2 separate regions of the Homo sapiens genome follow, and region 2 is linked to region 1. The links come from fine-mapping of genetic effects on plasma protein levels. Region 1 holds a variant in brackets. A gene starts in the other region. All regions are shown on their reverse strands.

What was found. PIP is the posterior inclusion probability: the model's chance that the variant is causal. Protein levels are from antibody-based Olink assays in UK Biobank. Linkage for the fine-mapping came from a reference panel and not from the study's own genotypes, which makes the PIPs less certain.
Region 2: it holds the start of C6orf58, and the variant in region 1 is fine-mapped to the plasma level of the C6orf58 protein (UK Biobank, PIP above 0.99).

Annotation. Positions count from the first base shown.
Region 1 is chr12:11,212,615-11,218,010 of GRCh38, reverse strand. The region is part of intron 1 of LOC107987435 (a long non-coding RNA gene); the gene reads right to left. Among named protein-coding and RNA genes, the nearest start is that of TAS2R42, 28 kb to the right of the region's middle. The variant C/T (reference allele first, on the strand shown) is at 2,535.
Region 2 is chr6:127,574,248-127,579,643 of GRCh38, reverse strand. It overlaps C6orf58 (chromosome 6 open reading frame 58), which reads right to left and starts at 2,470. Exons shown (of 6, transcript NM_001010905.3): 1 at 2,158-2,470; 2 at 872-958. The coding sequence starts at 2,458.

The sequences.
Region 1 (5,396 bases):
AACTTAGTGTTGATGAGGGGTGTCCACACTAAATGGTATTGATAGCTGGAGCATGTATTCTCAGGCAAGAAGAGAAATCCTGTTTGCCTGTAAGTGAATATATTTCCTAATAGTAAAATTTCCTTTAAATGTGTTTGTAATGCAATATTTTTAAAAAACCTGTTATCGCTGGTGACAGAGCAGGAGTATTGCCATCTTGGACAAGCACTGTCATTTTAAGTTCACCTTGATCAAAAACTGCCTAAATCCAAAGGTCATCAGCCTTCTGGCTAAGGTCAGCATGACCATAAACCACAAATAATATCTCTGACCAAAAAAATTCCAAACCTCTCCCCTACCAGAGGCATGCCAGACCCGAGATAATCTCCCCTCCACCCAGAGACAGTCTGACCCCAACATAAACTTCTCCCCCACACAGAAACATTTCAAGCTTGTGATAAACCCCCTCACTCTAAAACCAATGTATACTCTGTTGCTGCTTCTGAATCCTATAACCCCAAAGGGCCTAGCAAGGCCAACATCTCTGCCATTGGCTCCTCAAAACTCTGTCTTCCTCTGCTTTTGAATGTTCCAGTTTGAGAGTAAAATTTAGGTTGAAGACATCTCCCCAACCTGTCTCCTGCTGGTGAGATATTCCTCTACAGTTTAAAGCCCCCTCACGAATGCCCACTCATTTCATTTTATTTTTGTACTTAAATAAAATCAACTTTATATGTATTTTTTAAAATATTTTAATATTTTCAGCTTTATTAGGGTATAAGTGATAAATAGAAATTGTATATATTTAGGGTGTGCAACTTCCTATTTTGATTTATGTATACATTGTGAAATGCTCACCATAATCTAGCTAGTTAACATAGCCATCGCTTCACATAGTGACCTTTTTTTTGTATATGTGTGGTGAGAACACTCAAGATCTGTCCTTTTGGCAATTTCAAGTATTCAATACAATATTTTAAATTATGGTCTCCATGCTGTACTCGCCTACTCATTTTAGGCATGGTCAGGTGATATATAAACTCAAACTATTTCTAAATGTGATCTATTTCCTTTTCTACCATCTTATGGGTAACTATTTGTTGGAATATAATGCCTTCAAATTCCTTTAATATTCCATTTGCTTTCACGTTCTCAGGTGGTTTTTTTTAAATACTTTCTTTAAATATGTTTATGGAGTTCTCCACAGTGAGAGATAGGAAGTTGATAAATTCTAGTTCTAATAAAAGAGGCTTTATTCAAACATATTTTGTCCAACTTTTCCCCACTGTGGGTAATGCCACTTAGGAATTATTCTATCAGAACAGCATCTGACCTAAACCTTGACCTCATATATTACTCCTGCCCCTTGCTAGCCTTAGTAGATCTCATTTTCATTGTTTCTTTTCTATGAGAGCTGACTCTTCAAATATCTTGATTATGTTTCTCTCTCACACTGGAAATACCTGCATCTTTACCTACAACATATATGTGAATCTGAAAATCACGTAATACTATTTCGGCTAATTTTCCTGGTTTTCTCTTCTCAAATATGTGCCCACTTTATATAACTAGTTCCTGGGGAGGGGTCTCTTCTGTTAGTTTTCTGTTATTTGTTTACTTTTTTGGATGTTAGTAGTCACCCTTTCCAATCTAGAAACAAAAACCTCTCTTTTTCAGTTTCTTCTTTCTGAGTAATTAGATGCAGATTCCTTTGATGTGTGCCTAGCCCGGCCTCCAGATTCTCATTTTTCCTGACATTGCTCTCTAGTAAATTCCTCAACCTTTCTCCTAAGAAAGTCTTTCTTCCACAACAGTAACCAGGCCTTCTTGTTTTCCCTTTATTCTCCCATGACTTCCATTCTTATAGTTACATTGAAGAGTACCAAAAAACAAACTAAAATAAAGCAAAAACCGAAAACCCGCCTTTTTCTCCCAGAGACAGTATTCCGAGAATGAAACTTTTTATATTTCTGATTTCCTTTTGAGTTAGTGGTAATTTAATTGAGTTGTTTCAGCCCAAGAAAATAACATACATACTGTATTTAATAAAAAACCCAATTATTTTAAGTGGGTGAAGGTATAGATGAGTAATTTAGGAGTATTAATATAATCAGTAAATTGGAGAGACCATTTGGTGAGTGTGACTCACAGTGTGACAAGGCATATGAATGTAAGAAGTTTCCTTTCATCGAGTTTCCTTCGCCCTGGAAACTGATGCAGGTTAAGTCCTAACGATGCAGGGACTAATGATTTAGGGATTAAAATCTTATGCATTGATAGTCTGTAGCCTAGCATCTAGCTGCCATCCCCCTGTTTTTATTTTCTTAAACAAGCTTTATTTTTAGAACAATTTTAAATTTATAGAAAAATTGTGGAGCTAGCACATGGAGTTCCCATGTGTCTTGCACTCAGTTTCTCCTATCCTACAATACCATGGTATATTTGTTACAATTAATGAACCAATTGTCACATTATTATTAATTAAAGTTCATATCTTATTCAGGTTCCTTTAGTCGTGCCTCATGTATTTTTCTGTCCCAGGACCCCATCCTGGA[C/T]GGGGATTTATTTATTTTATTTAGATGTTGGGTCTCCTTAGGTTCCTCTTGGCTGTGACAGTTTCTCAGACTTTCCTTGCTTTTGATGACCTTGATGATTTAAAGAATACTGGTCAGGTATTTTGCAGCATGTCTCTTTGTGAAGATGTGTCTGATAATTTTCTCTTGATTAGACTGGAGTTATGGGATTTTTGATTAGAAAGACCTCAGAGGCAAAGTTAATGTGCCATTTTCATCATGTCACATCAGGAGTATATACTATCAACATAACTTGTCCCTTTCTATGTTGTCCTTCGTCACCCAGAGGAGACAGTGTTTGAAAGTCTTTTTCATTGTAAAGTTATTCTTTCCCTCCCTCTTTCCAAGTGTAAGGAGTGGAGAGTTATGTTCCACTTCCTTGAGTATTCATACAAATTCTTTAGAACTATTCTGCATGAGAGGTTCATCTCTTGTCTCTCCCCACTCCCCCCACTTTTTAATGAGCCCTTCCTCACTTTCTGGTTCTACAAGGGATTTCAGGTTCATCTTGTATATTTCCTGCCCCAGTCGTAGAATCAGCCATTTCTCTAAGGAGTCCTAGTTTCTTTTTTCAGATAGTGGCATCAGAAACCAAGATCTGGGTATGCTCATTGCTCTTGTGTGTCTTTGCTTCTAGTCCCTTAGTAACCTGTGTTTATGTACTTATACAGAAATATTTCTTTATGTAGAAATAATTGGTGTTTATATATATCCATATTAAGCTAAACTTAAGTTCATACTGACATCTCCGACTCTGATCCATTAGTACATGGATCATTCCATCTCCCCCTTGCTTATCTGCAAACTCCTGCTCCAACAGTGAGAAACTGCCTGCCATGATCTGCCATCCATTTATTAATTGTTTAATTTTGGTATACATGTGTAAAAACATCAGAATCGTTAACCAATAACTTTATGAGAAACAACTTTATTAACTATACTGCAGTACTTATGTGTAGTTTCTTTGACCTTTAGTTTTACAGACTCCACTTATTTTCAAAGTTATGTAGGCCAGCACTTTTGTCCCTACCGTCTTCAGTGAGAGTTTTTTATACTAACTGTGATACAATTAAGTTATATGGCCATTTTCACGATATTGATTCTTCCTACCCATGAGCATGGAATGTTCTTCCATTTGTTTCTATCTTCTTTTATTTCATTGAGCAGTGGTTTGTAGTTCTCTTTGAAGAGGTCCTTCACGTCCCTTGTAAGGTGGATTCCAAGGTATTTTATTCTCTTTGAAGCAATTGTGAATGGGAGTTCACTCATGATTTGGCTCTCTGTTTGTCTGTTATTGGTGTATAAGAATGCTTGTGATTTTTGTACATGGAACAAACTACTTTAAAGTTCATATGGAACCAAAAAAGAGCCCACATCACCAAGTCAATCCTAAGCCAAAAGAACAAAGTTGGAGGCATCACACTACCTGACTTCAAACTATACTACAAGGCTACAGTAACCAAAACAGCATGGTACTGGTACCAAAACAGAGCTATAGATCAATGGTACAGAACAGAGCCCTCAAAAATAATGCCACATATCTACAACTATCTGATCTTTGACAAACCTGAGAAAAACAAGCAATGGGAAAGGATTCCCTATTTAATAAATGGTGCTGGGAAAACTGGCTAGTCATATGTAGAAAGCTGAAACTGGATCCCTTCCTTACACCTTATACAAAAATCAATTCAAGATGGATTAAAGACTTAAACGTTAGACCTAAAACCATAAAAACCCTAGAAGAAAACCTAGGCATTACCATTCAGGACATAGGCATGGGCAAGGACTTCATGTCTAAAACACCAAAAGCAATGGCAACAAAAGACAAAATTGACAAATGGGATCTCATTAAACTCAAGAGCTTCTGCACAGCAAAAGAAACTACCATCAGCATGAACAGGCAACCCACAAAATGGGAGAAAATTTTCGCAACCTACTCATCTGACAAAGGGCTAATATCAAGAATCTACAATGAACTCAAACAAATTTACAAGAAAAAAACAAACAACCCCATCAAAAAGTGGGCGAAGGACATGAACAGACACTTCTCAAAAGAAGACATTTATGCAGCCAAAAACACATGAAAAAATGCTCACCATCACTGGCCATCAGAGAAATGCAAATCAAAACCACAGTGAGATATCATCTCACACCAGTTAGAATGGCAATCATTAAAAAGTCAGGAAACAACAGGTGCTGGAGAGGATGTGGAGAAATAGGAACACTTTTACACTGTTGGTGGGACTGTAAACTAGTTCAACCATTGTGGAAGTCAGTGTGGCGATTCCTCAGGGATCTAGAACTAGAAATACCATTTGACCCAGCCATCCCATTACTGGGTATATACCCAAAGGAATATAAATCATGCTGCTATAAAGACACATGCACACGTATGTTTACTGTGGCACTATTCACAATAGCGAAGACTTGGAACCAATCCAAATGTCCAACAATGATAGACTAGATTAAGAAAATGTGGCACATATACACGATGGAATACTATGTGGCCATAAAAAATGATGAGTTCATGTCCTTTGTTGGGACATGGATGAAATTGGAAATCATCATTCTCAGTAAACTATTGCAAGAACAAAAAACCAAACACCGCATATTCTCACTCATAGGTGGGAACTGAACAATGAGAACACATGGACACAGGAAGGGGAACATCACACTCTGGGGACTGTTGTGGGGTGGGGGGAGGGGGGAGGGATAGCATCGGGAGATATACCTAATGCTAGATGACAAGTTAGTGGGTGCAGCGCACCAGCATGTCGCATGTATACATATGTAACTAACCTGAACATTGTGCACATGTACCCTAAAACTTAAAGTATAATAATA
Region 2 (5,396 bases), not on the chromosome of region 1:
ATTTTCATTAGTTGGATATTAGGCTTATACTGATTTCCACTAGAAATCAGTGATGTAGAATATTTCATCCTAGACAGGCATTTGTGAATGGAATCCTATGCCACAGTGTAGCAGGCTAATCCTCCAAACTACTAAACCAATCTAAGAATAACAAACTCTGAATTCTAGATCTGTGGCCACTACTATTCGCGAGTCTTTTAAAAGAACTAGGGGTAGTAAGTGGAAAATGCTTAAGGATACATATGATGTGTGTTGCCCTGAAAAAGTGAAATTTAATGTGGTCGTGTTTCTAACTATTGAGAAATACCTCTAAGGATTTGTGGTATAAATTGTTTTCATTACTAAAGCATAAAATTAAATGAAAGAATTAGAAAATACCTTCTGGTTATTTTAGCATTAAGTATATGATTAAAGCCTGAGATTACTGATTGGTATAATGAATTGCAGTAGGTATTAATCTCTGGCATGTTTATGGGTTTCAATATTAACCACATCTGGTCTGAGCAAAATGAAAAAGCATCATTTGTCTTGATGTCTCACTTCTCATCGTTCCTTATTCTGGAGATTCTTTGTCATCAGTTGGACCTCCCACCTAACTACCAGAGCTGGCCCCTCAGAGGCCACTGCTTTTGCAGAACCTTGTTTTCGTCCTTCTGTGAAAAGCTGGATATGTCCTAAGGAATCATTATTGACATTGTGGCTCTTAAATCCCTTAAAGTGACCTAAAGGCCATAAGGTACACGGTGAAATAGATTCCTTTTTAAAATAGGAACAGGATTATTTTAGTTCTGTCTCTGTCCCTAAGATTTTAGGTTTGAATGCTTTCTTTCAGGAAAGGTTAATATCTATTTTGCCACTTAAACGAACATACCAGCCCACCAACTGTCCACAGAGATGCACATATGATCTCCAGATTCATAGCCACAGTTTGTCCTTCGGGTTGGATCAGCTAATCTGCCTGGAGGAGAGAGGATGCACAGTCGTATTTATTATACGCATTTTGAAACTGGCTGTAACTATTGCTTAACCACATAGATTTTGTTTGTAGATACAAAAGCATTTATTTCTGAATGATATGTGTTTGTATTCCCATCATTCTTTTTTTATCTTTTATTTTTTAGTTTCTAATTTCTTTCCTTTTCCTTAACAACACAGTTTTCTACTTTTGAGTTATAGGTCCTAAATATTATTTACTTTTGTAAGGATACTCTCTTCTATTTCCTCCTCTACCTTCTAATCGAAACTATGAAGCAATATGCATACAGATGAAAAGAGATGGTCGAGAGTCAAAACAAACCCCTGCTCTACCACTTACTAGCTTGACTTTATCTAAATAACCTCTAATGCCTTAGTTTTCTCATCTATGACATGGGGATAATAATATTAACTACATTATAAGGTTGTGATGTGAGGTGAGAAAAAGCACCAAAGGTGTTTCACCTGTAATATGCATTATGTAAATATTAGAAAATAATCATTGTTTTTCTTCCAAATGAAATTGCTCTTTTCTTAACCTCTCTCTCACACACAATAATTTCTTTATTGGCTGTGTCATCAGCAGGGAGTGGGCAACAGGCACCACTCTTTCTCATGAGCTTCTATCAACCAGAACAAAAGTATCTTTCAATTCATGTATATTTTATCCCAAAATGTAACTTCTGTCTATACACTGTAAGGTACCTTATTTCCAAGAGGAAGCAAACATTTTACAGAGAAAGATCTTCATGAACAATGTGATGCTTCTTTATAACCTCATATCATAATTAGAACTTCAAGAAATTCAAACTAATTGGACATCACTTTGTATATCCCCTTGACTGTTTTGTTCATCTCATTGCTTAGAAAGGAGTGTGGCACTTAGTAGAACTTCAACAAATATTTGTGAAATGCTCAATAGATGAGATGTGATGTCTTTTCACAGTTGATAACTATGTCTTATGCCTCATTGAAGCTTCTAATAATAACACACAACCCACAAAAGAAGGATTTGTGGATAAGGAGAAGGATAGGTAGAAAAACAATGATTATAAGGGAAAAGAGAACAAGATAAAGAATCAATTTTTAAAAACATAGTAGGGTATATACAGAGTCCAATTTCCCAAATACTTCATAGGTCTATCGGTAGATCATTACAATGAAAACAAGAGTCATTCTTACCTGTCCTATATTGCCAGCCATACTGCAGAGGCAACCCCCATAAAATATTCTGTTCATTATCTGGTGCAAATTTTGCAAAATACCTGGCTGTCTGATTCAATATGATTTTATACATCCCCATTCTCTCAAGGTATACCCAGGGATTAATAATGTACATGCTGTTCTCCACCCTGTAGTCACTGAGCTGACCAGGACTCTCCTTCCACAGAGGGGGCTCTGTCTCTGAGAGATTGGAAGTCCCTGCTAAGGAAGCAGAAAAGGAACCAACTAGTACACAAACCCAGGAAGGAAGAAAAGCCATTGTGCCAGAGCTGGGGATTGCGATCGTAGCAGGGCTTTTATTGGAGAATGGAAGAGGAAGTCATGATATTTGCTAACCTCACAGCATATCAACACTTTGCTTTTTTGTTTTCCTGGATAGGGTGAAAATGTAGAAGAAATTGATGTATTAGCTAACATTTAGGACAATTAAATTTCCCAGACTCTTCAGCGTCAGAATACTGTGTCAGAACCTAAATACAAGGTTAGGCTTGTTTATAATGTATTAGATAAAACTATTTATCAACAAAAACCTTCCAGAAGTTTCCCAGGCTGCATTGTGATTACAAAATACATCACAAATGGCTTTAGAATGCTTCCCTCTAATAAAAATACTTTAACATATTTCATGGAAAATATTAAATAGCTGGAGATGGAAATACTAGGATTTATAATAATCTTCAAATGTGTACTAAAAATATGTGTGATCCAGTTGTAATACAATGTTCTGCTTCAAGAAAGAAGCTTAAAGAATATCTAATTAGCTCAATTCAATAATGAAAGTCAGCCTGCTGGAACAAAACCTGCTAGTTAATTCTTAATATCTATTTTTCATTCTTTATTAGTAAAAGAATCGTAGAATTTTAGCTGGGAATATGGTCTCCCAGAATTAAGGCTAAATTTCCAATTTGCTTTACACAAGCAACCATGTGACTAAGTGTGGACCACAGAGACATAAATAGAAATAGTATCCACAATTTCTGGAACATGTCCTAAAATGAAGGGCACATGTCAATTCCTCTTCCCTTCCTCCATGTTGTGGCTTGGATTATTGATGTGATGATTGAAATTCAATTCTGACCCCTAAACGCAAGGCACTATCTTAGGGATGACAGAATGCAAAGCTGGAGGTGGCTTGAGTCCCAGAGGGCTGTGGAGCCATGAGATGTCCTTGAATTCCTATATCTGAGTTTTACCTGAGCAAGAAACACCCCACTCTCTTGTTTCAACCACTGTTATTGAAGTTTTATTCACACATAGTAAAAATTCTTGCCTTATTAATAGGTAATGCATCTGAAAATCTCAATTATTTACACAATTAGATGCATATGCTTCATAGTAGGTCACTGGTACTGCTTGTTCCTGGCATGGTCCACATTAAACATCCTACAGCATGATTCCACTCTTTTTTCCTGTCATATTATTTACCCAATAGCCATTTGATAATTAATAAATTTTCCAGATATATTAATATAAAAGGGAATGGTAGGAATTGCTACTATAGATCAAGAATGCAATCATTCTGGAAATTTTAAAAGTATATTAAATGTTTATAAGAATATATACGTGAATATGTACTGTAAGATGTGTTACTCTAAAACCAAATGCCAGATTGTTCTCAATGGAGAAATCTTAAGAGCACTCCTTTAAGGTCAGAAATAAAATAAAAATGACCACCAGCATTATAATCATTTAACTTTTCTTTGAGGATACCAAACAATAAAGTTAGTAAAGATAAATAAATTAGAGGTATAAAATTGAGAATGAAGATGTGCTAGTACTTTCCCTTATAGATGATATGACAGTGTTCAGAAAACATAAGAGAATAAACTAGAAGGGTAACTACAAAGAAAAAATTTACTAAAGTGGTTAAGAACTAAATTACTATATATAAATCAATAGCTTTTATATATAAAAGCAATTGGGAAATATAATAGGTGAAAATGGAAGAAAAGTCCTCATTTTATTGTCAACAAAAGGGCCAACATATAAATGTATAATTATGGTAGATCTGTTTGGAAAAATCTCTAAGACTACAAAAAAATTGAACAGTTTTAAAGTCATACAATGTTTCTCAATAGACTCAACATTATCAACATGTTAATTTATAAATTTGTACAATAAATGAGAAATATTAACAGGATTTTTAGATGTGCTTTCTGGAAAGATTTTTAGGACTGAGGCTAAAATTTGCCTAAAAAATAAATTATGAAGAAAATACAAAAACTCTAATAATAATGGATAATAATAGTGAAAGGAAACTTTCCATAACAGATATTAGAAGATTATTATAAGCCCTCAAAAATTAAAGTAACACACCACAGTCATTGATGTAATAGTGTGACCAGTTACAGGTTAAATAAAACAGAAATATTGAACTATATTAGAGAAAGATTTTAAATGAAGACCAAAATACAAATGAGAATTTAAAGAGGAGCTATACTGGAACTAGATCTAGACATTGCTTCTATGTCCACTAGTGGAGTAGTTATTGGAATCCCATATACAGTGGGAAAAAAGTAAGAGCACATCTTGATGGAAAGATATTTGTTAAGGATATAAAAGAAATAATGTCAATAGTAGAATCTGGATCTTCTCATGCAAAAATTATTAATAGAAGAGGAAATAAGTTAGACGCTTACAAATAAACCTCAAATGAACATCAAACATATCACGGCATGCACTGATAGTTACATAACGTGATATTCACTCTTCTCTTATTTCTTTGTAAGAACACCCTTAATCCTTAGCACAACAGAGTCTTCCTGGAATAGAGATTATATTATTTAGTCTCACTGCTAGATGTAGCTACTTGATAAAGCTGTGGCCAAATTGTTAAGTTGCAGCTTTCAAGGAATCTCCTTTATACCTTGTCCTTTATTCTTTGTTATTTCTTCCTCTGCTGGCTGGAATGTAAATGTAACTAGAGACTGATGCTGTCTTAGATTATGAAGGAGCAAGAAAAGGTAGGAGAACAATAAAATAGAAGACTTTTGGTTTCTAGTCTCTACAGCTCTAGATTGTCTACTTCTGATTGCTGTCTCTATGAAAGAAATAAAATTTTAACTTAAGGCAATTTTTTTTTATGGATTTGTACTGCTTGGAGAACCTAATCTGAACAGACATTCTAATTTTGTCTTTCAACATTTCTGTGCCCATTTTTTCTTAACTATAAAGTAGAAATAGTTTTACTGCTCCTA